Homo sapiens: one gene and its partners. The protein of the gene in region 2 interacts with the protein of the main gene of each other region in a biochemical or structural test. Each region holds a gene or a part of one and is shown on either strand. Other genes may lie near its edges. The genes, in order: XPO1, TGS1, HNF4A and NCOA6.

Evidence for each region.
Region 1: the proteins of TGS1 (region 2) and XPO1 form a complex in vitro, tested with the Homo sapiens proteins (one study listed by IntAct).
Region 3: the proteins of TGS1 (region 2) and HNF4A form a complex in vitro, tested with the Homo sapiens proteins (one study listed by BioGRID).
Region 4: the proteins of TGS1 (region 2) and NCOA6 form a complex in vitro, tested with the Homo sapiens proteins (2 studies listed by BioGRID).

What each region holds. Positions count from the first base shown.
Region 1 is NC_000002.12:61,493,352-61,500,379, reverse strand, and holds part of XPO1 (exportin-1), read left to right. Parts: intron 1-485; coding exon 486-667; intron 668-1,466; coding exon 1,467-1,515; intron 1,516-1,587; coding exon 1,588-1,707; intron 1,708-3,372; coding exon 3,373-3,501; intron 3,502-4,766; coding exon 4,767-4,925; intron 4,926-6,288; coding exon 6,289-6,486; intron 6,487-7,028. UniProt on the Homo sapiens protein: Mediates the nuclear export of cellular proteins (cargos) bearing a leucine-rich nuclear export signal (NES) and of RNAs.
Region 2 is NC_000008.11:55,797,445-55,804,472, forward strand, and holds part of TGS1 (trimethylguanosine synthase), read left to right. Parts: intron 1-1,469; coding exon 1,470-1,776; intron 1,777-5,012; coding exon 5,013-5,162; intron 5,163-7,028. UniProt on the Homo sapiens protein: Catalyzes the 2 serial methylation steps for the conversion of the 7-monomethylguanosine (m(7)G) caps of snRNAs and snoRNAs to a 2,2,7-trimethylguanosine (m(2,2,7)G) cap structure.
Region 3 is NC_000020.11:44,421,671-44,428,698, forward strand, and holds part of HNF4A (hepatocyte nuclear factor 4-alpha), read left to right. Parts: intron 1-2,347; coding exon 2,348-2,584; coding exon of another isoform or gene 2,585-2,709; exon of another isoform or gene 2,710-2,973; intron 2,974-6,664; coding exon 6,665-6,817; intron 6,818-7,028. UniProt on the Homo sapiens protein: Transcriptional regulator which controls the expression of hepatic genes during the transition of endodermal cells to hepatic progenitor cells, facilitating the recruitment of RNA pol II to the promoters of target genes. Activates the transcription of CYP2C38.
Region 4 is NC_000020.11:34,738,625-34,745,652, forward strand, and holds part of NCOA6 (nuclear receptor coactivator 6), read right to left. Parts: intron 4,718-7,028; coding exon 1,739-4,717; intron 309-1,738; coding exon of another isoform or gene 235-308; intron 1-234. UniProt on the Homo sapiens protein: Nuclear receptor coactivator that directly binds nuclear receptors and stimulates the transcriptional activities in a hormone-dependent fashion. Coactivates expression in an agonist- and AF2-dependent manner.

The DNA of each region.
Region 1 (7,028 bases), on a different chromosome or scaffold from region 2:
CTTGAACTCCTGACCTCGTGATCCTCCTACCTCGGCCTCCCAAAGTGCTGGGATTACAGGCACGAGCTACCACGCCCAGCCTGGCCAGGCTGTTCTCAGACTCCTGGCCTCAAGTGATCTGCCCACCCTGGCTCCCCACAAAGTGCTGGGATTACAGGCATGAGCAACCGCGCAAGGCCTCCTAGAATAATTTCTACATATCTATCAGGCAGATACTAATACACAGACAGACCCATTAGACGGATTGGACCTTTCATTAGGATAATTGAAAAGGGTCCTGCGGTGATTAAGATAAAAGACTTTGTGTTTTGTTTTCTACCCAGTAGGGTGAAGAGGGTGGCACATTTCTTCCTTTAATAAAGGAGGAGAAAATGAAAAGTGATTTATCCTTACTCCTGCCTTTATCCATTACATAATTTCTTTGAAGTTTGTTTTATTTGCCTTTGAGAAATGAAGTGCGATTAACATTTCATGTCTTGTTTTAGATACTGAAACAAGAATGGCCCAAACATTGGCCAACTTTTATCAGTGATATTGTTGGAGCAAGTAGGACCAGCGAAAGTCTCTGTCAAAATAATATGGTGATTCTTAAACTCTTGAGTGAAGAAGTATTTGATTTCTCTAGTGGACAGATAACCCAAGTCAAATCTAAGCATTTAAAAGACAGGCAAGTAATAATTATGTTTTAGAATTTTAAAGTGATTTCTCAAACAATTTCAAGCAGTTTGGATGTAAATTGTAGATATTTTAAGGAACTATGATCAGTAATATGTTAAATTGCTTGTAGTGGTTTTCAACTGCAGATTAAGAAATAGTCCTAGACGGGGCCTAATAATTTACCTCTGAAGGTTGAAAAATGAATTGTTCAAGACACACTTCAGGAATTGTTTTGTATGGTAACTAGTTTAATAGGTTCTAAGCAAATGATTTGTGTCCAAACATACGTATTAGTTATTTTATTTTATTTTGAGACAAGTCTTGCTCTATTGCCTGGGGTGGAGTGCAGCAGCGCAATCTTGGCTCACCACAACCCCCACCTCCTGGATTGAGGTGATTTTCTTGCCTCAGTTTCCCAAATAGCTGTGACTGCAGGTGCATGCCACAGAGCCTGGCCTCAAATCAGTTATTGTCTCTGCTTCTTTTCAGTTCCCCAATTGTTAACAATAGTGTTCTTTTTAAAACAAAACAGAAAACTAGATTTGCCTCTAATAGTAAGCAACTGGTATAAACTATAGTTATACTTCCATTAAGTTTTAAACATTTGTTGTAGTCATTAGGAAATCTTTTTCCCCTTGGGTTGCCCAGGCTGGTCTCAAACAATCCTTCTGCCATGGCCTCCCAAAGTTCTGCGATTACAGGCATGAGCCACTGTACTGGGCTTTAATCATTTTTATTAGTATTATAGATAACTGATACTTATTTCTGTGTCTTCTAAATCTGATATTTTTGTGTGTTTTTTTTTTTAGCATGTGCAATGAATTCTCACAGATATTTCAACTGTGTCAGTTTGTAATGGTAAGTGTTTTTAATTTCATTTTTAAAAACAATAATAGGAAAGCAATTATTTACAAGTGTGTTTTGTTATAGGAAAATTCTCAAAATGCTCCACTTGTACATGCAACCTTGGAAACATTGCTCAGATTTCTGAACTGGATTCCCCTGGGATATATTTTTGAGACCAAATTAATCAGCACATTGATTTATAAGGTACAGTGAATACATTTCAGTTATTTGTCACCGGATAGCCACATATATTCTTTTCACATGTAAAGCTCTCATCTCTGCATTCTAAACCTTATTCAACCTTGTTTCTAACACGAGGACGCTGCTCAGGAGAAATTTCCCATATTCACACCTAGTAAATTATTTAAAGTGAGTTTCAAATCTGATTCTGCCACTTAGACCATGTAATTTTATGAATTCATTTTGAACAATGGATTTGATTATATTGCTTTTAGTTTGAGTAAGTTACAGTGAGGTAAGTCAAGTGCTATTTCTGAAAAATGAAAAGTTCATCTTTTAACTGATAATTTAAAATTGATACCATGTTATGGCTTAAGTTCTATAATGGTTTAGCCTGGGCAAGTTGGTGAAACCGGTCTCTACTAAAAATACAAAACAGCCAGGCGTGGTGGTGTATGCCTGTAGTCCCAGCTACTCGGGAGGCTGTGGCAGGAGAATCTCAAACTCAGGAGGCAGAAGGTGCAGTGAGCCAAGATCGTGCCACTGCACTCCAGCCTGGGCAACAGAGCGAGACCCTGTCTCAAAATAAGTAAAGTTCTACAGTGGTTTATCCAGAGATAATCACTGTTACCAGTTGGTTGTATTATATTTTCAGATGTTTTCTTGACTGATATAATGAATAAATTAAGTATCTAATTGGAACATTATAACTTGACCTCTTCAACTTCGTAGTTTAGTTTGGTAAGATAATATGGATTTATAGTATTTGAATGATCAGTTTATTGCTTAATTATGTAAAAACCTTTCTATTGTCAACAGTCCTACAGAGAACATTCTCAGACATAAGATATTATGCAATTGTCCAAACATTAATTTATTTAAATATTTTAATGTTTAATCACCAGATTATTAGGTATGTTTAATTTTAAGGTTTTAATGCCCCCTGATTTCCAACCCCAGACGATAACTGTTTATCTTCTCAACAATAGAATATATAAGCCAATTTTCCCATATTCTTATTACTCTTAGATACATTGACCATTTCCCAAAATTCTAAGCAATCACAAGTTTTAGGTCCTGTGTAATTACACAGAAAGTATAACATTCCTAAAAGTCATATCACAGATTCTAGGAAAGTTGTTAAGGAGCCTTGTTATTTTAGGACACATCAAAAGAAAGCAGTTTAGGCCGGGCGCTGTGGCTCACGCCTGTAATCCCAGCACTTTGGGAGGTCGAGGTGAGCGGATCACGAGGTCAGGAGATCGAGACCAGCCTGGCCCAACGTGGCAAAACCCTGTCTCTACTAAAAATACAAAAATTAGCCGGGCGTGGTGGCATGCATGTGTAGTCCCAGCTATTTGAGAGGCTGAGGCAGGAGAATCGCTTGAATCCAAGAGGTGAGGTTGCAGTGAGCCGAGATCAAGCCCCTGCATTTCAGCCTGGGCGAGCGAGACTCTGTCTCAAAAAAACAAAAAAAGTTTGCTCCTAAAGCATTTACTGTATACTAGGTAGGCAATAAAATTCCCTCTCAGTATATCTGCATGATAAAATATGTTCATTCACTTGGCCTGTTTTTGACATCTACCCCTATATTTAATTGTTAAAGCCTTTTTCCTTTTAATTGTGAATTTTAAGTAAAGTGTGTATCAGGCCAATTAATTTTATGGTTCCCTCCCCCCTTTTAAATAGTTCCTGAATGTTCCAATGTTTCGAAATGTCTCTCTGAAGTGCCTCACTGAGATTGCTGGTGTGAGTGTAAGCCAATATGAAGAACAATTTGTAACACTATTTACTCTGACAATGATGCAACTAAAGCAGGTAATATAATACTATCTTGAAAATTGGCTGAATAATTTTAGTGCCTTAGAAAATACCAAATTCCAAATGAGTTATTTTAGAACGACGTATCAAAGATAAGCCATAATCTTTTGTTTATTACATAAAATTTGTAGTAAGCTACAAATTTTTATGATGTTTCCAAAAATTTCTTAAAATTCAGGTTTGGGGTGTGTTGTGGTAATTTATTTCTGCACACTTTAGGAGCTTGGTCTTTTGGGAGATACCTGACCAGACAGTGGGAAACCTGGGACTTGTTCCTAACATTGTGTCTGAAGGAATTCTTTTCAGCCCTAGTTTGATTGGTTATCTATTAAATGATCTAGAAGGTTATTCATAATACTGTGTTCATGGCCAGGCATGGTGGTTAATACTGTAATCCCAGAACTTTGGGAGGCCAGAATGGGAGGACCAGTTGATGCCAGGAGTTCGAGACCAGCCAGGACAACATAACCAGACCATACCTACGAAAGATTTAAAAAATAGCTAGCTGTGGTGTTGCACACCTGTAGTTCCAGCTACTCTGGAGGCTGAGGCAATAGGATCGCTTGAGCCTATTAATACAAAGTTAAAATGAGCTATGGTCACACTATTGCACTCCAGCCTGGATGACAGGGTAAATCCCTGTCTCTTTTAAAAAACAAGGAAAGATAGATTACTATGTATGTTTGTGATCTGAATGAATGAATTGATTATTTTTACATTTTTCAATGTCAGTGAGAAATACTAGAAAAATTTAAAGGCTGTGATAGCGGCCTTTAATTTATTTGAGAAGAGTCAAAATCTAAGTCCTAGAGATATAAGAATAGGTATACTGGACCTAGGAGTTCTGTATGTGGTTTAATATTAGCAAAAGGGTGTTGGGATATTAGGGCTTAAAAATAATAGTGTTGGCTGAGTGCAATAGCTCAGACCTTTAATCCCAGCACTTTGGGAGGCTAAGGTGGGAGGATTGCTTGAGCCAGGAGTTTGAGACCAGCCTGGACAACATAACAAGATACCGTCTCTACAAAAATGTTAAAAATAAGCTTAGTGCGATGGCACATACCTGTGGTTCCAGCTACTCGGGAGGGGCTGAGGAGGACTGATTGGGCCTAGGAGGTGGAGGCTGCAGTGAGCTTTGGTCATACCACTGCACTCCAGCCTGGACAGAGTGATACCTTGTCTCAAAAAAATAATAATAAAATATTAAGTGTCTTTAGTTGTTTTATAAAATGCGAACTGATCGTCCCTTTTAAAATTTGCAGATGCTTCCTTTAAATACCAATATTCGACTTGCGTACTCAAATGGAAAAGATGATGAACAGAACTTCATTCAAAATCTCAGTTTGTTTCTCTGCACCTTTCTTAAGGAACATGATCAACTTATAGAAAAAAGATTAAATCTCAGGGAAACTCTTATGGAGGTAAGATATGTGGAGCTTTTGCTCCTAAAATTCTGCTCTGCCTACTAATAACTCTTAAAAGTGCCTTTTTCTAAAATGTATGTACCTTTTGAGATTTCTTATTACTTAATATTTGATCAGTACATTATATATATTCTCAATTCTGAATTACAGTTATAAGCCCAGTTTTCTGATTTTATGTTCTCCATAAAGCTAGGACTAAAAATTTATAATCAAAATTAAATTACTAATTATTATATCATTTCTAAGGTTAAAATTTCAAAGACCTTATTTTAAAATTTCAGTTTTAATTCAAATAACATGCATTTGTTCATTTAAAGATATACAATTCATCGTGTAATCCCAGCACTTTGGGAGGCGGAGGTGGGTGGATCACTTGAGGCAGGAGTTCGAGACCAGCCTGGCCTACATCGTGAATCTCTGTCTCTATTAAAAATACAAAAAAATTAGCTGTGCGTGGTGTCACATGACTGTAATCCCAGCTCCTCAGGAGGCTGAAGCACAGGAATTGCTTTAGCCCAGTAGGCTGAGGTTGCAGTGAGCCAAGATCACAGTACTGCACTCCAGCCTGAGTGACAGAGCAAGACTCTGTCTGAAGGAAGAAAATGTCTCTCTCTCTCTCTTTATATATATATATAAACTTAAGTATATATATATATAAACATAAGTATATATATATATACACACACACACACAATTCAGTGGCATATTAGTATATATACAATGTTATACAACCATTAATACCTAGATCCAAAACATTTTCATCACCCGAAGGTGACCCTTTACCCCTAAAACAGTCACTTTCTCCTTTGTTCTCTCCCCAACTTCTGGCAACCATTATTTTGGTTTCTGTCTCTGTAGATATATCTATTCTGATTATACCATATAAAGGGAATCATGCATGTGACCTTTTGTGTCTGGTTTCTTTTATTTGGTGTTGTGTTTTCAATGTTCTTCCATGTTGTAACCTGTATCAATACCTCACTTTTTATCATGTCTGAAGAATATTCTCATTGTATGAATATTCAGTATTTTGTTTGTTCTCTCCTCTGTGATGGTACATTTGGGTTGTGATACCACTTATTGGCACCCAAGGCCTTTTAAATAAATGTCGTTCCATTAGGAGACATGATAAAAATACATATTGATCAACTACTATGTGAGAGATTTTTGAAGTGCTTTAGGGCATGTCAGAAGAAGCAGAGTTACTCCAGAGTTTGCTGTCTATTTGATAAGTATTGAAATCTGAGTTGTGATGAATAAAACATGAATTTTTATTTTCCCTTAAGGTGTAACAAGTGAAAAGCAATTTGAAGTTGGTAATGTTTAAGAATTATTTTAACAGTTTTGGTCTTCTGTGTAGGCCCTTCATTATATGTTGTTGGTATCTGAAGTAGAAGAAACTGAAATCTTTAAAATTTGTCTTGAATACTGGAATCATTTGGCTGCTGAACTCTATAGAGAGAGTCCATTCTCTACATCTGCCTCTCCGTTGCTTTCTGGAAGTCAACATTTTGATGTTCCTCCCAGGAGACAGCTATATTTGCCCATGTTATTCAAGGTAACAGAGCGGTTGGTTGAGTGTTCTTCCTGTTGCATACTGTGGTTTTGAGGTCTGAATCCAAATACTTCTAATCTGTGTAAATAAATTAGCTATAAAAAGAGAACCCAACAACTTCTCCATGAGTGTGGAAAACTAGAACATGAAAGGAGTTGAGTCTAGAACCTTGATTCTCAAGAGTGTGGTCCTTCTCTCAGTATCAACATTGGTTGTGATTTCGTTAGGCAAATTCATTGGCCACCTGCCAATCTACTAAACCAGAGTCTAGGAATGAGACACAGGAAACTCCTGTAACAGAAGTTGGTTAAAAAAATCACATTAAAACACACTTAAATAATTATAAAGCCATTTTTGTAGAATTACAGTGAAAAAAAATTTTTTCTTTTGGAGACAGGGTCTTGCTCTGTGGCTCAGGTTGGAGTGCAGTGGCGTGGTCATAGCTCACTACAATCTTGAACTCCTAGACTAAAGCAATTCTCTTGTGTCAGCCTCCCAAGTAATTGGTTGCAGGCACACACCACCATGCCTAGCAAATTTTAAAT
Region 2 (7,028 bases):
TAGGATCCTAATAGTCCAAATTCTGATACAGCTTTATATTATAAGCTTTAATTCTGAGTTCTTCCAGAAGTGATCAGTCACAGTTTACACCTTGTAACAAGTTCACCCTGATAGCATGAAACACAGGCCAATTTATTGATTCACATTATTACCTGAAATATTCATATATTGGACTTTGCTATACCTGCCATCCAAGTACCTGGGAAACAAAAGTAGTTAGAAAATTGCTTGGTGTGATGAATTACCTTTCTATATTCTAAGGGGTAAAAAACACTTTCTAATGAGCAGAACCTTCATGTCAATCACATCTCCAGCAGCTCTTCAGGACAGTAGACCATAATCTTAGACTCCATGATGTCTCTGTCTCTGTTGTTCGTTTTTTAAGGCTAGTCAGATGACTCTTTTTCCCCTCAATACAGTGTCCTCCCTAACTTCAGCATACTTGTAAAATATGCTACATATATATAGCTGGTTTTATTTTGTATTACATTTCAGGTTGGTTGGCTGCTGGTGATGTTTTAATAAATATGTTCGTGGTGCTAGTTATATCTGAAACAGACTGCCTAGTATTAGTCCAGTCAGTGCCATAGGACTTTCCGTAATGTGTTGGATATAATAGCCCCTATGCATTCATCTATAGATGAGTGCAGAAACAGCTACTAAGCATTGCTGAGGAAAAAAGATATGTAACTGTTGTGTCTAACTTAGATACCTAATTTATTTATAGGCACATTTCTTTAGAGGAAGATTCTGGGTTGTTGCCCATCATGTCTACCACTTCATTCTAATTTACTCACTCTCAGGAAGGTCATGAAGACAAGATAGGAAGAATATTCTTGTTACAGAAGATGCAAAGAAGTATATGATCTGATGCTGAGCCTTGTTTACATTCCAAAGAACAAACATTTGCTGGGACATATCTTACTGGCTCTACTGTTGCATTAAAAGGCAACTTTGATTTTTTTCCAAGGTAGACTGCTTCTATTCTTACAGAAGAATTGGCCCTAAATCTTTTTAGGGTTCGTCTTTGATGCTAAGTAACATTTACATAGATTGTAGCTTGACCATTGCAGAAAGGTCTATATAATTTGAAAAACTAAAATTAATGATTCAGTAGTAAGTAGGTACATTTGTAATGTAGCTGTAGCACAGTTAAATTGTTAAGAACCCTTATGGAAAAGCCACTGGGACAGTTTGGCTTTATCCTCTTAGTATTTATTGATAGCAGGAAGTATTTAATCTGATATTTTTTTCCTTTTAAAGAAAACTTTTAATAAGGTCATGGCATGCCCAGATAGCATTCTGATTAGGTCAGAATTACTTACTATTAAGCTTGTGTGATGCAGTCTGCTTTTCAGAGCCAATAATTTTGACACAGCTTTTCAGTCAAGTCACAAATTGTAATAGGTAGGAAGATTCTGTGTAGTTTGGAATTAATTCCTGCTCATGATGTCATCTTAAAATTTAAGGTAGAAAAATTCCTCACATGGGTTAATAAACCAATGGATGAAGAAGCATCACAGGAATCATCTTCTCATGACAATGTGCACGACGCTTCCACAAGTAGTGATTCAGAGGAACAAGACATGTCTGTTAAAAAAGGTGATGACCTACTGGAGACTAATAATCCAGAACCTGAAAAGTGTCAGAGCGTATCTTCAGCTGGTGAACTTGAAACAGAAAACTATGAAAGAGACAGCTTGCTAGCAACTGTTCCAGATGAGCAGGATTGTGTTACTCAAGAAGTGCCAGACTCCCGCCAGGCAGAAACTGAAGGTAACACTAAATATGCTTCAACTTGCTAATGGATTTAGATAAAATTTTTTTTGTTAATATGTTTTTTCTTAGTTTTCACTTGTGAATCTTCTGTACCTAAGGAGTCACTGCTACTTATTTTTAAGTGAGAGAAGGCATATTAAGTGTACATGTTCTAACTGGCTATGACTTAGCACCCACAGCACTCCTCACTCTTGGCTGAGTGAACATGATCAAGTAGAAAAGGAAAGACTGTTGGGAGCATTGTGTCTGCAGACCACTGTCTGCAGTTCAACTTGGCCTCTGCTGGTACTCAGTTCCATGGGCTAAAGGTGACCATCCTTTGCCTTCTTCGTATGTGGTGTAGCTTTGGTTTACTTCTTCCTTTTTTTGTGTGAGACAGGGTCTCATTCTGTTGCCCAGGCTGGAGTGCAGTGGCACAATCACAGCTCACTACATCCTTGACCCCCAGGGTTCAAGCAGTCCTCCCACCTCAGCTTGAGTAGCTGGGACTACATGTGCATACCACCATGCCTGCTTAATTATTTAATTTTTTTTGTAGAGACACAGGGTCTCACTATATTGCTGAGGCTGGTTGCCAAAGGCTCAAGCAGTCCTCCCACCTTTGCCTCCCAAAGTGCTGGGATTACAGACATGAGCCACCATGCTCAGGCTGGTTTCCTTTTGGTGTGTTTTTGTGTGTTTGTGTGTGTGTGGTTGATGATGGTCATGTGTTTTTGATGGCACGTTAATATAAAAAGTATTCAGAGCAGTTGGCTCTAATGAATAAACTGAGTAACATTTTCAATTTATGCACTTTTGTATTCGAATTTTTATAGCAAAAGTTCTTATATAGTTTAATAATGGTATTATGAAACCATTATATTTATTGTGATCCTTCATCATATTTCTTTATTACTATGGAAAATAACTTATTTGAGTCTTGATTTTTTTTTTCTTAGTGCAAGTGTGGGTGTATGTGTATGTGTGATCTTTTTATCACATATTTCTTTACATTCTAAACAGCATACCTACAGTAGTTTACATTTATTTTATTATCAATGTTATAATAACCGATGTTCATATGACATTTGTAGGTTTGTGAAATGCTTTTATGTGTCTTATTCTCATTTAATCTGTAAGGTAGCCAGGGAAGTAGGTGGAATTATTTTCCATTCTGTAAATACAGAAAGTAAAGCTGAGAGAAATTTAAAAATTAGCCCAAGTAAGTGGCATAGCTAGGACTCATTACCAGCTTCTCCAATTGCTAAGTCCCATTTTCCTGCACTATCCCACTTCCATAAACACCAATTCTCATGATGCTGGTTATTTTTACCTGGGGTAGTACCACCTTCACAAGGGCATTTGGAAGATGCTGGTTGTTAGAATGACATTTGGAATTCTGGCATTTAGTACTCAGTTACTTAATGTTAGGTCATGTACAGGATGGTCTTGCACAACAAAGAATTATTCCACCCACAATGTCATTATACCCCCTGTTGACAAATAATCACCTTACTTTGCTATTGGTAACACTTGTTTGGGGATGGGGAGATCTGACCTTACTGAATCATGATGACACTTTTTACTATTTACAATGATCAGATGAACATATTAGGACATAGCCCTATCCTTGAGGACCATTTGAGTGTGTAATGGAGTCTTATTCTTTGTTAGCCATCACCTCTTGTTTTTATACTTAACTGTGAAAAAAGTCTCATCTTTCTATGTTGTTGCTTCTAATTTGCTGAAGACTGAAACCAAATAACCAAACTGATAAAAATTATTTAAGGAAAAAATCACTCTCTGAATGAATGAGATCCTTTTCCGTGGAATGGAGCTAGTGACCCTTGTTTCAGTTTCTCAGATGCCATGTGACTTCAATGTGGCTGACAGCTAGAGCCTAATCTAGTCCTTGATAGAAAGGAAATGTTTAGATTTCTATAATTCACCACATAAAGCAGTGTCTTGGCTAACAGAAGTAATAACTTTTATGTCTATAGCAGTATTTCTACATATGTCCTGTCACTGCTGTGAATTAAGTTAGTAAAACACCACTCACTAACTCATTCATTCATTCTTTATTTTTTAGACAGAGTCTTGCTCTGTTGCCCAGGCTGGAGTGCAATGGCGCATTCTCAGCTCACTGCAACCTCCGCCTCCCAGGTTCAAGCGATTCTTCTGCCTGAGCCTCCCGAGTAGCTGGGATTAGAGGCACCTGCCACCGTGCCCAGCTAATTTTTGTATTTTTTTTTAGTAGAGATGGGGTTTCACCATGTTGGTCAGGCTGATCTTGAACTCCTGACCTCAGTGATCCACCTGCCTCAGGCTCCCAAAGTGCTGGGATTATAGGCATGAACCACTGCGCCCAGCCCCATCGTTCTTTTTTTTTTTTTTTTTTTTTTTTGAGACAGAGTCTTGCTCTGTTGCCCAGGCTGGAGTGCAGTGGTGCAATCTCAGCTCACTGCAAGCTCCGCCTCCCGGGTTCACGCCATTCTTCTGTCTCAGCCTCCCAAGTAGCTGGGATTACAGGCACCTACCACCACGCCTAGCTGATTTTTGCATTTTTAGTAGAGATGGGATTTCACCATGTTGGTCAGGCTTGTCTTGAACTTCTGACCTGCCTCAGCCTCCCAAAGTGCTGGGATTACAGGTGTGAGCCACCTCGCTCAGCCCACTCATTCCTTTTATAGGAATTAATAATTGGAGTTTAGGCCAGGCACAGTGGCTCATGCCTGTAATCCCAGCACTTTGGGAGGCCAAGGCGGGTGGATCACAAGCTCGGGAGATCAAGACCATCCTGACTAACACGGTGAAACCCCGTCTCTACTAAAATACAAAAAAATTAGCCGGGCGTGGTGACGGGCGCCTGTAGTCCCAGCTACTCGGGAGGCTGAGGCAGGAGAATGGTGTGAACCCGGGAGGCGGAGCTTGCAGTGAGCCAAGATCGTGCCACTGCACTCCAGCATGGGTGACAGAGCCAGACTTCGTCTCTAAATAAATAAATAAATGAATGAATGAATGGAGCTTAAAGACCCTCGGTTACTTTCCCAAGCTTACAAAGCCAATAAGTAGCAAAATGCTGGTGGTGATTGAAGCCAGTGGCGTTTCCATCAGGCTCTCCTGTTTCTCTGGGCGTGTCATTATATACATGTTCTGCTTGTAATTATTTGATGTGGCTTCATTTTTAGATAAACTCACCTGTGATACTAATTTTTTTCTTAGTGAGCATCTATATTCTTTGTATTTTATTTTAGCTGAAGTGAAAAAGAAGAAGAACAAGAAGAAGAACAAAAAGGTGAATGGTCTGCCTCCTGAAATAGCTGCTGTTCCTGAGCTGGCAAAATACTGGGCCCAGAGGTACAGGCTCTTCTCCCGTTTTGATGATGGGATTAAGTTGGACAGAGGTAAAGTATATATGTATTTTTTAGCTTTATTTTGAAACCACTTCAAACTTAAAAAGAAAGTTATAAGAATAATACAGGGAATGTTCATATCCCCTTTACCCAGATTCAGCTATTTTCAACATTTTGCCCCGTTTACGTTCTCATTCTCTCTCCATATGTATGTGTGTGTATCTTTTTCTGATCAGTACTTAACACACATCATGCTCATACTTCTTAATACTTTAGTGTATATTTGCTAAGGACAAGTATATTTTTGTTTAAAATAGTGAATTATCAACTTAACATTGTTCCAATATTTTAATCTACAGTTTATACTCTAATTTCATTAATTGTCCTAATCTTGTCCTTTATCACGTTTTTTTTTTCCTTCCAGTATAGGATCATGTATCATTGCGTTTATTTTTCAAGTTCTTTAGTTGCCTTTAATGTGGAATGTTTCCTTAGCCTTTTTTGTCTTTCATGACTGACATTTTTCAAAGGATCAATGGCCATTTATTTTATAGGATGCCCTTCAATTTGGGGGGGTGTGTGTGTGTGTGTGTGTATTTTTAAAATTTCAGACTTGGGTTTAATCTGTATTTGTAGCACGTTAGGATAGATAGCAAAAGCAATTGATAAATTATTAAACAGAAAACCTGATGAAGAAATATCTAGTGCAGAAGGATACAATTTAATGAATTAACTTCGCAAATTTTGAATTCTTTCTCCAGCTTTCCTGCTGTGATCTGCAACAGCTTACTTAACTCAGTCTTGCAGACTGATGCTCGTTTTCATATTGGGGTTACCTAAATATTGGTTTTTATTAACTATCAAAATCAGAAGTTCTTGATCTATGATGGAATTTCAGGGGTTCTCTGACCCTTTTAAAACAATTTGCAAAATGCTGTGTATTGGAAAAAGTACGTAGGAATTTGTAAGGAGAAATAAGGCTGGAAAACACTTGCAATTCTATAAAAGTGTATATTCTTATTTTTCCAGTATTGAAGAGCCATTTAAAGTTTTGGTAAGGGGAGACAACAGGAAAATTAACGCACATTATTTTTATTTATTTATTTTTCTTTTCTTTTCTTTTTATTTTTTCTTTTCTTTTTTTTTTTATTTTTTTTAGACAGGGTCTCACTCTGTCACCCACGCTGGAGTACAGTGGCACAATCTTGGCTCAGCAACCTCCACCTCCCAGGCTAAAGCAATCCTTATGCCTCCGCCTCCTAAGTAGCTGGGATTACAAGCAAGCACTACCATGCTTGGCTAATGTTTTGTAGAGACAGGGTTTTGCCATGTTGCCCAGGCTGCTCTCAAACTCCTGTGCTCAAGTGATCCACCACGCCCAGCCCAGCACATCATTTTGTTCAGATAATTGTCTTTCTGAAAAATGTAAATTTTTTCTACTAGGAAAGAAGGAGGTCAGTATTCTCTTTACTCTAGAGTGGACACAGGACCTCATTTCTGACAATGATGAGGGCTCTGCTATTCCTCCTGTACTTCTGCAACCCTATGGCCTTTTGCCATCCAGTTCCTTGCTTTTTCCGACCCTTTAAAAGCATGCAGTTTTGGCCAGGCATGGTGGCTCATGCCTGTAATCCCAGCACTTTGGGAGGCTGAGGCAGGCAAATCACTTGAGGCCAGGAGTTCAAGACCAGCCTGGCTAACATGGCAAAACTCTGTCTCTCCTAAAAATACAAAAATTGGCTGGGCATGGTAGCGTGTGCCTGTAGTCCCAACTACTCAGGAGGCTGAAGCATGAGAATTGCTTGAACCCAGGAGGCGGAAGTTGCAATGAGCCAAGATCATGCCGTTGCACTCCAGCCTGGGCAACAGAGCAAGACACTGTCTCCAAAAAAAAATGGAGTTTTTTCTGGAGTGTCC
Region 3 (7,028 bases), on a different chromosome or scaffold from region 2:
TTGAACCTGGGAGGCGGGGGTTGCAGTGAGCCAAGATCATGCCATTGCACTCCAGCCTGGGCAACAAGAGCAAAACTTCATCTCAAAAAAATACATATATGTGTATATATATATAATATATATTATATATATATAATATATAGTGATATATATAGTATATAGTGATATATTACGTATAATATATATTATATATAGTGATATATATTTTATATATATATAGTGATATATATTATATATAGAGAGAGTGATGAAGTGGAAGATGAGCCCCATGTATTGAATGCTCCCTAAAGAGCTGTTTTTAAACACTTTATGTGGATTGTCTTACTTACCAACATGGTACCTGTGAAGTAGGAATTATTATTATCTCCATTTTACAGATAAGGAAACTGAGGCATGATTAACTTGCTCAAGGTCACACAACCGGAAAATGGCAGAGCTTGGATTTGAACTTCAGACCACCTGTCAATCCCAATTTCTCTCTCTCAAGCCCACATTCTTACCTACCACCTGCTATCCCACACTTACCAGAGGGTGAGATTTCTAGTTCTAGTTCCCTCCACAGCCTGGCCCAGCCTGTATCCTCTGTAGTGCTCAACACGAGGCTGGACTGGCAGAATTGTTCTGCAAAATGGGAAGGATCACTGATGCTGAGTCAGAGGCAGCAGCCTCCAGCAATTTGAAGGGGCGGGGGACCTAGTTCAAGGCCTGGCATGCAGGAGGTGCTCAATAAACATGTGTGGCCTGAATGAACTAATGAATAAGCATGATTCAGTGGAGACAGCCCACTAGAAATGTGGGTGAATGTTCTTTCTGCCACTTCCTTTGTCCATGAAAGAGGAAATAAATGCATTACCTCCATGAAGGTTGAGATTAAATATTGTATGACCGCTTAAGTTCCTTTCTAGGCTAAGGATCTAGAATTTATTCACTGATTTTTTTTTCATTCATTCATCCAGCCATCTAACAAAAAATATACATATAGTTATCAATAAATATATATTTATATATAAATATATATTTTTTAAAATATATATATATATAGTCTGTCACCCAGGCTGGAGTGCAGTGGCACCGTCTTGGCTCACTGCGACCTCCACCTCCCAGTTTCAAGCGATTCTCCCACCTCACCTCCTGAGTCGCTGGGATTACAGGCATGTGTCACCACGCCAGGTGAATTTTTGTATTATCAGTAGAGATGGGGTTTCACCATATTGACCAGGCTGGTCTCAAACTCCTGACCTCAAGTGATCCCCCCGCCTCGGCCTCTGACAGTGCTGGGCTTACAGGCATGAGCCACCATGCCTGGCCCTATTCAATAAATATTGACTATGCATGGTGCTAGGTGGTGAGTTTGAAAAGGCAAAGGCCGGGTGCAGTGGCTCACGCCTGTAATCCCAACATTTTGGGAGGCTGAGGCAGGCAGATTACTTGAGGTCAGAAGTTTGAGATGAGCCTGACCAGCATGGTGAAACCCCGTCTCTACTAAAATACAAAAATTAGCTGGGTGTGGTGGTGTGTGCCTGTAATCCCAGCTACTCGGGAGGCTGAGGCAGGAGAATCGCTTGAACCCAGGAGGCAGAGGTTGCGGTGAGCCGAGATCACGCCACTGCACTCCAGGCTGGGGGTCAGAGGGAGACTCAGTCTCAAAATAAAATAAAATAAAATAAAAATGGCAAATAAGACATACGCGTGCCCCTGCCAAACTCACAGTTGGATGGCACAACAATTACATCCTGTGTGGTCAGCAGTGATGGAGGGGCCGCAGAGATTTGGAAACAGGAGGGACACAGGATACAGATATAGGAGGGTAGAAGGCAGACTTCCTGGAGGAGGTGAAACCTAACCTGAGTCCCTAAGGTGATAGGAAGCAGGAACCAGGGAAGGGGAGCCTATTCTAACACAGTAGAAGCAGCAACTGCTGAGGTCTGGATGAGGGGACCTCAACTGTGGCCCAAAACCCCAAGTTCCCATTGTGGCTCTGCCAACAACTGGCTGTGCGACCCAGGACAAGTCCTATCTTTGCACTGTGTCTGGGTTTCCCCGTGTGTAAGATGAGGCGGTTGCTAGGTGCTTATTGGATGCATTCCTCAAGTCCCGCCCTCCATCTCCTATTCCCCTCTCTTCTGGTTTAGTGCTTTAGGAAATGTGGCAGAAATCTTTTTCTGCCTGTGTCTAGGAAATCATAATTCATGCTGGCGTACCCTGGTTGTTGAGGTCCCTGAATCCTTGTGCCCACACTGCTGAAGACTCCTTGTGTGATACAAGTCAGGGGACATCTGGGTCTTGACTCCCCAGATGCTCCAGCTGGACCCTGCTGCCCTCCCTTGCCCACCCTCTTCCATTGTAGATGCCAAGGGGCTGAGCGATCCAGGGAAGATCAAGCGGCTGCGTTCCCAGGTGCAGGTGAGCTTGGAGGACTACATCAACGACCGCCAGTATGACTCGCGTGGCCGCTTTGGAGAGCTGCTGCTGCTGCTGCCCACCTTGCAGAGCATCACCTGGCAGATGATCGAGCAGATCCAGTTCATCAAGCTCTTCGGCATGGCCAAGATTGACAACCTGTTGCAGGAGATGCTGCTGGGAGGTCCGTGCCAAGCCCAGGAGGGGCGGGGTTGGAGTGGGGACTCCCCAGGAGACAGGCCTCACACAGTGAGCTCACCCCTCAGCTCCTTGGCTTCCCCACTGTGCCGCTTTGGGCAAGTTGCTTAACCTGTCTGTGCCTCAGTTTCCTCACCAGAAAAATGGGAACAAGGCAATGGTCTATTTGTTCAGGCACCGAGAACCTAGCACGTGCCAGTCACTGTTCTAAGTGCTGGCAATTCAGCAAAGAACAAGATCTTTGCCCTCGGGGAGGCTGTGTGTGTGTGAGTATGTATGGATGCGTGGATATCTGTGTATATGCCCGTATGTGCGTGCATGTGTATATAAAGCCTCACATTTTATGATTTTGAAATAAACAGGTAATATGATAGAGTTTAACTGAAAAGGAATCCTCTTTAGATAGGGGAGGCCACAGGAGACCTCTCTGAAGTGGTGACTCTTGTGCTAAGACCCTAACGGCTGAAAGGAAATGGAAGGCTTAAAAGACAAGAGAGGAATATTCCAAGAAGAAGAAACTACTTCAAGGGCTGCGGATAGGAGAGAGTGTTGTGTTTGAGAAAGAAGGGCAAGGTTGTGAGATGGAGGACGTGTAGGAGGTGAAGATGGAGATTGGGCAGAAACCAAATCATAAACATATGGCTTTGTCAGCCTTTTCAGAAATTTGGATTTTATTCTCATTGCAACTATTGTAAGGAGAGTGAAAACCAGACTAAGTATTTTTATTCTTTGAGACAAAGTCTCCCTCAATCATCCAGGCTGGAGTGCAGTGGCACAATCTTGGCTGACTGCAACCTCCACCTCCCGAGTTCAAGCAATTCTCCTGCCACAGCCTCCTGAGTAGTTGGGATTACAGGCGCCCGCCACCACGCCCTGCTCATTTTTTTATATTTTTAGTAAAGACAGGGTTTCACCCTATTGGCCAAGATGGTCTCAAACTCCTGACCTCAAGTGATCACCCACCTCAGTCTCCCAAAGTGCTGGAATGACAGGTGTGAGCCGCCACACCCATCCCAGACTAATGCTTCAAACAAACCACTCTGTTGGGTAGAGAGTGAATTGCAGATTCCTGAGAATGTCACTGTCTCCAATCATGTGATGGATGATGGAGGCTTGGACCCTGGCAATGGAGCAGTGAAGATAAACCTGATCATCTATTTGGAGGAAGAGCCCACACCCACAGGATTTGCTGATTGATCAGACATAGGGAGTGAGAGAAAGAGGAAGAGTCAAGGACAAAGTCTACATTTTTGCTTTGAGTAGCAGAAATGACGATGGAGTAATTTACTGAAATGAGGAGGACAGAATAAACAACAAGACACTGGGTCTGGGGGTGGTAGTGAGGGGTGACCTCAGAGATCCATTGTGGACCCTCTTTTCTTTTTTCCTTTTTTTTTTTTTTTTGAGACGAGATCTCTCTCTGCCACCCAGGCTGGAGTGCAGTGGCGCAATCATAGTTCACTGTAGCCTCAACCTTCCAGGCTCAAGAGATCCTCCTACCCCAGCCTTTCAAGTAGCTGGGACTACAGGTGCGTGCCACCACACCCAGCTAATTCTTCATTCTTATTTTTTATAGAGACAAGGTCTCACTATGTTGCCCAGGCTGGTCTTGAACTCCTAGCCTTAAGCAATCCTTCCGACTTGGCCTCTCAAAGTGCTGGGATTACAGGTGTGAGCCACCATGCCCAGCCTCATTGTGGACTTTCATTAAGCATGAGATGACTATTACAAATCCAAGTTATCAAGGAGGCTGTTGAATGTATGAGTCTGTTGCTCAAGCACAAGATTAAAGGCAGCTCTGTGGAATCAGGGGGAAGATGGAGCCATGGAGGGAAGGGAAGAAGACTGGCCAGAGGGGTAGGAGAAAACCAGGGCAATTCCAGAATCCAAGAGAAGAGCGTGTTTGAAGGACAGAGTGTTTAATGGTGTTAAACTCTACAGAGAAACAGAAAGAAGCGGGGAAGAAAGGAGAGGTGAAGAGAGGAGGGGAAGAGAGAGGAAAGGGTCCATTGGATTGACAGCTGGAGGCTCTTGGCAATTGTGTTGAAAGCAGCATCAGAGAGCTGGGAGAGTGGAAACCAGATTGGAGAGTGCTCCAAAGAGAGTGAGTGGGAAGGTGGAGATAGAGTAGATAACCCTTTGAAATGGTTTGACTATGAAGGGGAGTATGAAGGAGTTAGGATGACTGCAAGGGAGTGATTAGAATGATAGGTCATGGAGTCTGGGCTGCACTCAAAAAGAAATAAAGATAGAGGCCGGGCACGGTGGCTCACACCTGTAATCCTAGCACTTTGGGAGGCCGAGGCGGGTGGATCACTTGAGGCTAGGAGTTCAAGACCAACCTGGCAACACAGCAAAACACCATCTCTACTAAAAATACAAAAAAAAATTAGCCAGACATGGTGGCATGCACCTGTAATCCCAGCTACTCGGGAGGCTGAGGCAGGACAATCACTTGAACCCGGGAGATGGAGGTTGAAGTGAGCTGAGATCATGACATTGCACTCCAGCGTGGGCGACAGAACAAGGCTCTGTCTCAACAACAACAACAAAAGGATGGGGTGATAGTGAAAAGAGAGTGTCAGTGAATTGACAGTCTCAGTAGGGCTGAAGAATTTTTGCAGCGATGGTATTAGATTACGGGAGCTGGAAGGACATGAGGTGAAGTCAAAGTGGGGATGTTGAATTCGAGATTTTGGAGGTGTTTCAGTGACTGAAGATGACAAGGCGAGGGTGAGGTTTCTCAACATTGGTACTATTGATACTTGGAACTGGACAATTCTTTGTTGTGTGGGGCTGTCCTGTACATTGTTCAGCTGCATCTCTGTCCTGTACCCATAAGGTGCCAGTAGCACTTCTCCAGTGGTGACAACCAAAAATGTCTTTGGATATTGTCAAATGTCTCCTGATGGGCCAAAATCATCCCCAGTTGGGAATCGCTGTTATGTGATAGCTCATTTCATTCTCACTTTGACCCTGTGAACATGGGGTTATTATGAATCAGGTGTCATTGAGATCAGGATCAGGAGCCTGTGGTCTGTTGCCAAATAATTAAGAGCTCTCTGGGCTCAGTTGTCTCATCTGTAGAATGGGCTAATAATAGTATCCATCCTATAGGATTGCTGTGAGGATTAAATTATGTGAAACATGGGAAGTGCTATACAACAGTACCTGGCACGTGATAATTGTTAATTATCAACAATTGTTATTTATCACTGAAATAGATGTACTGTAGAGATCGCTTGCAAGCGTTGAAATTCCATCATCGTCATATTACTCACCATAGGCTATTATTAAACCATATCCCATGTGGTATTTTTACTCCCTGACATATGTTTGAAGCGGTTACTGTGTTCCAGACAATCTGCTAGGCCCTCAAAGAAAGAAGAAAAATACCTCTGAAATTGTAATGCTCATAGACAGAAGAAGTGGTTGTTCCTAAAAGTTGTGTTACAGACAAATTACTATGAGAAATCCAAGGAAGGAGAATCAGGAGAGGCTTCTAAAGAGAGGAAATATATGAGCTGGGATTTGGGCTTATGGACATGGAACAGGTTTGGGGTGGAAAAACATCTCTGACAGAAGCAACAACGTGAGCAGAAGCATAGAGATAGAAAAACACAGGGGACACATAGATGCTATAAGTAGGTCAGTTGGCTGCAGCAGAGATGTGGGGGATGAGGCTGAAAGGTGAGGCGGGACCAAATGGTTGAAGGACTTGCACTCCAAGGAGCTTTGAGAGCCATTGATTACATCCATTATGTTACTATGTGACCAATACACTACTCATTAGAACATTTACGTGATCTCAGAGCTTCCTTATATGCACCTTGTTCCTTTCAACTCACTTTTGTTCTCTTGGTTTTTTGGGGTCCTCTTAACACCCTCATGAAGTCTATAGATGGGAATGGTACACCCTAGTTTACTAACCCAGGAATAGGTACCCAACAGGCACTGCCAATATTGGATGGGCTGGTTGATTGGCCACGCCTGAGGAAGATGGCGTCCCAAGGCCTGAGGTCTGCATCCCAGACTCTCCATCCTGATCGACCTTCTCTACCTGCAGGGTCCCCCAGCGATGCACCCCATGCCCACCACCCCCTGCACCCTCACCTGATGCAGGAACATATGGGAACCAACGTCATCGTTGCCAACACAATGCCCACTCACCTCAGCAACGGACAGATGTGTGAGTGGCCCCGACCCAGGGGACAGGCAGGTGGGCAAACTCTGGGATTTTACCTTGCAAAGGGTGAGGATGGGGCTTAAGACAGGAGGCAGGAGAAAGTGGAGTCTAGAAGGTAGAACCAGGATGCAACAGTTTTCTGGGTTCCAGGGTAGGGAATAAAGGGCAAGATTGTCCATTTGTTGAGGCTGTTTATTCAGTAAGGTGACTGACAGCCTTTACTGAATGAAGCCATTGTTGGGAT
Region 4 (7,028 bases), on a different chromosome or scaffold from region 2:
ACTGAGGTGAAGAGGCAGAGAGAAGGGGAATTAACCTTTCCAGAGCTCTGCGTGAGGCAGTGTGTTGGCCACTTGACAAATCTTCTCATTGAGTCCTCTCTCAGAATCCTAAATTCTGGGAGGTAGAATGTACGATCTCCATTTTACAAGTGAAATACATGGCTTAGGAGAGGTTAAGGAACGTATCAACTGTAACTGGTAACCAGTGGGCTAGAATTTGAACTCTGATCTTACCCTGAAGTTTGTGTTCTTTCTGCCTCTCCTCCTGGGTGCTTACCACTCAGTGGTAGGCACTCGAAGCATTTTAGCTGCATAAATAAGATAGGCACTTAATTAGCTGGCCTAGGATATCGTAAAGGTCTTTCCCAGCTCTAGCAGTGTGTGACTGACTCCACTCTGGGGAAATAGAGCTTCTTCACTTAAGCCTCACAGGAGGAGGAACATGTCAGGGAAGGGAAGAAGGGAAGGAGGGGCGGTTGTAAGGACACCTATGCTTCCATCATTAGCCCATCTTAACAGTACATAGGAAATAGCCTGAACTAGATACACAAATGGAATGTACCAATCAACAAAGAGATTACATCAAAAAGAAACTGGGAATAACAATTTTTACCATTTATTGAATAATAATTATATGCTAGGTTCTGTGCTAAGAATGTTATATGTACTACCTTATTGAATTCTTACAACTATTATTGTTCCATATTACAAAGGAGGAAACCAAAGTCTGGAGTGGTCAAGTAACTTGCCCAAGCCCATATAGCTGGTAAATGCTGGTGTTATAATACCAACCCAAGCCTACTGGCTCTTGACCACTTTGTTTCTACTGTGTCCATTATCATGAAACCCAGTTTTCTTCCAGCTCTCCTCTAGAGTAGCCCAGACAAAAAAAGAATGGTTCCTGAGATAGAGTACAGTGAGAATGGGGCTATGAGGACCCATTGTTCTGAAATAGTCATGAGCAAATCTTCACCCTGGTAAAGAGAATCTGCAGAAGCTGCTGTTCACACTTAAGGCACAGTGTTAAATGGGAGGTTCACAGTATAGACTCTGAACAAACACTGAACGTCTTTGAGCTTCAATCTTCTCACCCATACAATGGGGTTAAGAATATCTGACATAGTTGGTATAAAGATGATGCAAGACAACATATGTAAAAATGCTTCCTTATAAATTGAAAAACTTATATAAATGAAAGGTATCATTATTTCAGGAACTCTTTGTTTTGAGAGCCTTAGCTCTCTGTTTTGTTTTTTTCAGACAGAGTCTCGCTCTGTTGCCCAGGCTGGAGTGCAGTGGCATGATCTCAGCTCACTGCAACCTCTGCTCCCAGGTTCAAGCTATTCTCATGCCTCAGCCTCCTGAGTAGCTGGGATTACAGGTGTGTGCCATCATGCCTGGCTAATTTTTGAATTTTTAGTACAGATGCAGTTTCACCATGTTGGCCAGGCTGGTCTCGAATTCCTGACCTCAACTGATCCACTCACCTCGGCCTCCCAAAGTGCTGGGATTACAGGCGTGAGCCACCGCACCTGGCCCTTAGCTCTCTTTAATGAATGCAAACTTAACATGGGATTTAAAAGCATATTTTCCAACGTACTTTCAATAAATAAAACTACTGCTATTGCCATTTAGCCCATTCTCTTTCCTCCAAGTAAAAAAGGAGTCATGCTTTCTCTTGTGGGATTAGGTCATCAAAAAACTGACACAAAGAGATGATGAAGCCCCAAGTACATACCTATGCTGGGTAGAAGTTCTGGATGGGATCCCACCTTCTCCTCCACTAGGCCACCCGCAAGTGACTCAGATGCTATGCCACCATGATTGCTTTTTGTGGTCGGTACGGCGGAGATGAGCTCGGAGGGTACCAGAGTGGTTACTATCGAGCGTACACTGGTGGGGAGAGCACCGCCAGGTAAGCTGGGTCCTGCTGAGGCAGTGCCCGGGCCCACAGGGCTAGAGGTCATTTTTAGCAGAGTGGGTGCTGGGGGCGTTGGGGTTTTACTGTCCAGCTCTGTGGATAACTGCTCTGTTCCCATGAGCCCCGGAGCTGTGGTGTCTAGCCCTTGGCCTTCAGTCTCTCCATCTGCACCATATTGTTCTTCCCCTTTCTCAAGAGAGCCTGTAACTTTCTTACATGCCTTGGTCAACAAAATTTGGCCAATTTTGTCCACTTTTCCTTTGCCCTTACTAGACGAGACTGGGCTTCGCCGGTTGCCAGAGGACCCTGGACTATTGGTCAAAAGGGGAGAAACCATTGTGGTTGACTGTGAAGAGGGAAGAGTGTTCTGATCTGCTGAGGTGTTCACCTGAGGGCTAGCCTCATCTGGATTCAATTCTTTCACTTGCTGCACAGGGGGATGAGAAGGGACAACTGGAGAAGACGTACAAGGAGGGGAAGGAAGCTGAACAGGGGTGGCTCGTGAGCTAAGGACCAAAGGTCGACCTGTCTGGATGTTTGGAGCAGGACTACTGGAGAGGGCATTAGGCGGTACAGGAGCAGAAGAAAATTTTATGTTCTGAGGTATGTGTAAAGGGCCAACAACTGCAACAGAGGGAGGCATCAGGCCAGAGTTGGTTGTCAGTGGGGCTGCAGGAATTGTGCTTGGCTGTGATCCTTTCATAACCTGAATTATTGAGGATGAATTGATAAAGACAGGTGTAATGAACTGAGGCCGGGCATTAGACTGAGCAGCTGACTGTCCCTCAGAAACCATAACCTTGCTACCCGCATTGGGCATTGTGACAACTGTTGACATCAATGCAGACTGCAAGTGAGTTGGCAAAGCTGCTGATGTGTTAGCTGAAGTTGTGATGGGATTGGAAGTGACAAATACAGTTATTTGATTTGGGGGCAAGGGAGTGGAAATGGAGGAAGAGCTAACAGGTCTTGACATTACTGGAGGGATGCTTGGTGCAACGTTAGAACTGACCTCACTCAATTCGGGATGCACAAGGGATGAACACAGCTCATTACTGTGAGGTAAGTTTAGGGAATTAGAAGGTTCTTTAGAAGAAGACAGATCCTGCAGTGTGGGAATGACAGATGCTTTTTTGAGGTCCTCCCCAGAAACTACTGGAGGTGTTACTTCCAGATCTGTAAGCCCAGGGGGTTTAATTGTCACATTGGGAGCTCCAGAGTTGTCAAGAAGTTGACTTAACGATGTTGGTGCTTCCCTCATAGCAGGAGACACCAAATTTTTGTTCTCTTCGACACTGGGAAGTTTGTTAGGATCCGAAGGCTGCCCATCCTTTTTGGACTGATCTTCAGGGACAACCATTTTAACTTCTTGGGCAGGGACTGCTTTTAGTTCAATGTTTACCTGTTCCTTCCTACTCTGGGAATTCTGGCAATCACTGTCCTGAGGCACATTCAAGCTCTCCTTGTTATCCTCAACAACACCCCCAACTGCAGCCACAGACACAGTAGAATTCTGAGGATTCAGCCCACTGTTGTTAGGAAAGCTCCCAGGTACAGGGGGATTGGCCAGAGGAGTGGGACTGACCAATACATTTCTCGGCAACTCCACATTCTGCAATAGGGCTGCATTTGTCTGAGAGGCCAGAGTAAGTTTAGGGGCTTTTGAATTTTGCCTCCCAGGGCTTGGAGTGGTTTTCCTACTGGACCCAGGACTAGACCTGCGACTGTTGCTTGGACTTGCCCGTTTTGTTGCTCCAGAATTAGACTGCTTTCCAGAATTCACTACCACAGAATCTAATTTGTGAGTTTGTGGGGTAGCAAAATTGGAAGGATTCATGGTAAGATTTGAAGGTGCTTGCCCGATGGCCTTCAAAGTTGTTGGATTTAGGCCTTGTTGATCAAAGCCCCTGTTTAAATTTGGCCTAGGAGGTAAAGGAATATTAATCTGTGGAGGGAAGAGTCCTGCTATGGAGGCATTGAGTCTTTCTGGTGACAGACTGATTTCTGAAGGTTCTGTGCTGGGAGGGCGGTTGTTGGGTGTCTGAGGATAATAGGGTCTGGGGCTGGCTCTGTTTGGTGTTTTGGGCCTAGATGTCTGGGTTGGCGCAGCCACATTTGGGAAGTGGTGGCCGTGAGAGCTGGGCAGGGAATTTACAGGGGGTTGCTGGGGAGTTGCACCTTGAGTTGCTGAAAGGGGCGATGGTCCAGGTTTTGGCCCTGTCATCATTAACTGATTCTGGGGAAGTACTACATGTGAAGGCATGTTGTTTGGGCCTCCTGGGACAGATGGTGCTTCACTGCCACTTGCTTCAGGGAGTGAGGCCATCTCCGCCAGTGGCGAGCTGGAAGGATTCTGCGGGCTCTCCTGATAGACCATTTTCCTTGAATTGCTTCCCAAGGGAGTATTCACAGGCATTGGCATTCTTTGTTTATCAGGTGATGGTGGCACGGAGGCAGGTCCTTGCAGACTGACCATGACAGGCACACTGCCACTCTGTTGCATGGGCATTCTCTGGGAGTCGGGGTTCAGGGGGCCCCTTGGAGGATGGACATTTTGAGAGACTGGAAGCCTAACTGATTTGGGATCCTGCTGCATCATGAGCATCATCATCATTTGTTGCTGCTGCTGCTGCTGCTGCTGAGACTGTGGCTGACTGGGAGGTGGTGGCTGCTGCTGCTGAGGCAGTTGTGGCTGTGGCTGCTGCTGTGGTGGCTGTGGTGGGGGTGCCACATGCTGCATGAGTTGAGGAGGCATCTGCTGAAGTGGCCTCTGTTCAACTGGTTGAGAAGGATAACCTAAAACAAGCCCCCCAAATTAGGGAAGTTAGATTTTTCAGCAAGAAAATGTTGCTACCTTTAGAGTATAGCCAAGCAATACTCATCTAGGTGGCACAGACTATGCACAAACAGCTCAGGCATGCCCACTCCTGGGGCAGGGGGCAGCCCCTCATTACTTGACATAAGCAAAAGGGGCACAGTGCTTAAGGAAGCAAAAAGCAAAGCATCAAAAAACCTGGAGCTCCTCGGTGTGTAGGATCTGAATGAGCCATGACTGTACTAAGAGCCTGATTTTCTGTGCTATGCACTGAAAATGGCTGTGTCTATACCAGCCAAACATTCAGATGAAATGAGAAAAACTCCATCAACATCAAGTGCCTGGCCACCCAAGATTCAGGTCTCATGTAGTCATAATCAATATTTCAATGTACTTGTGAATGAAGTAAAGCATTTAGGATTCACTTCTTCTGTTAGCACAGGAATAATTTTTTTAAGATGTGGTTTTGTTGAAAATAACAGCACTGAAGACAGCCTTTTTATTCTTTCAACAGAAGTAAAATATAAAATTCTAGGATTCAGTTCCTTAAGAAAGAGGAATTTAAAATTATTCCAATTCATTGGCTCCATACACTACGCCGCATCCTTCAGGCTTAATCCTTTGGGGGAAACCGACTGAATTAAAATTGCCCTTCAGGTGTAAATCAGTTTAATAAACAGTAGGAGCTAATGGAAGCTGATATACACATTGAAAATAAAATTAGGGCATTGAAGTTTTTATGGATATTAATTTGCACTTACTTTCTTACATGCAAATCTCTATTTGGAGAAATATTTTCCATGAATCCACAGCTGGAGAATAAGTAAGGCAGAAGCATAGCCCTCAGGAATAAAAAATAATTTTGGGAAAAGAACTCTGAAGGACAATGTCTTCTAGATATGCAGAGGGCAACATCTCAAATTATTCTCTTTTTTTGTGAAGATTTTACTTGGCATTTTAGAACCAAAACCTTACAATCAGAAAAGATAAAAAGATACGCAAACCAAGAATAACGGTGGTTCTGTGGGAAAAAGTGGGCATACAGCTGGGCATATATGGGATACAATTCCAGTTCCACAAACTAGATTTATTCCATTGTTGCATGAAGAGTACATTAGGGAGGTTTTAAGAAGGTGTAGGAATAAGAACAACTGGCTCTGGCAGTCAAAAGAAATGCTGACTCAACATTTTCATAGAGCAGCTACCAAATTTTGTGGGTCAGACTCAGCACTCAATTAATGTCTTCTGGCCAAAGATTTCCATGGTATCAATGAATACAATGTGTAGAATCCAGTTTTGAAGATTTTTAAAAAAATCCTTTTTTATTTTAGGCCCGAGTAACTTCTTCACCTTTATAAAGCCAATAACATGGCATTTCTATGGTTCAACTGTCCTTTCGACTACATAGTCAAATACAGTGGGTTCCTATTTTTCACATTCAGTCTGGGGTTCCCACATTAAGAAATTTGTAATTGCTACAAAAGCCTGTTGATGTCAGGGTTATGACATGGATGCCTTTTATCTTTAAAATCAGCCCACCAGACAGTAAATACCAAAGAGGACAGCATAGACAATATAGCAGCCTCTCAAAAGTAACAGTTAAGGGCATGGCTGCTACAGAGTCCAGAAGCTGGAGGCAGCAGTCCAAAAGGCACTAATGATAAGACAGATTGGGGCTGACGTGACAGAATGGTGAAGAGGGAAAGCCAGGACACACATAGTGCCCATAACACAATCACAAACTGAATTTATTACTCAGGGAATGCAAACTCCTATGCCTTTAGGGGCCAGGCAGGTAGTAGAGAATAGAAGTGGACTGGTATAAGACAGCAGGAGTCCTGTCAACAGTGCCAAACTGCAGAGCAGATGCCCTATTTAAAGGCATTTAAACTCGGACTTTTGTTTAAGACACTGCATAGCAACTCAAAACCATTATAGGCCAAATTCAGCCTGCAGGCCCCCAGTTTGCAGAAAGAAGGCAATAAATGTATACAAAGACCCCTGGGATTCTTATAAGAAGAGTTCAGATGTGTCTGAGGCAAGCAGGCATGTTCCTGCTCTCAATGCCTTCTGGACATACTCCCCAAAGACTGATGACCTCCCAGTCTCAGCTATGCTGCTGCATCTCACTGACGGGAAGTGTGATATGCCCAAATAATTTGTAATAAATAACACAAAGTATTGATATCATGATGGATTTAGCTTTTTGTTTGGATTCAATTTTAAAATACATAAATTAGGGGTAGATTAAAGGTTACTCCTAAAATAATGTCGCTCTCATTTTCATGCCAA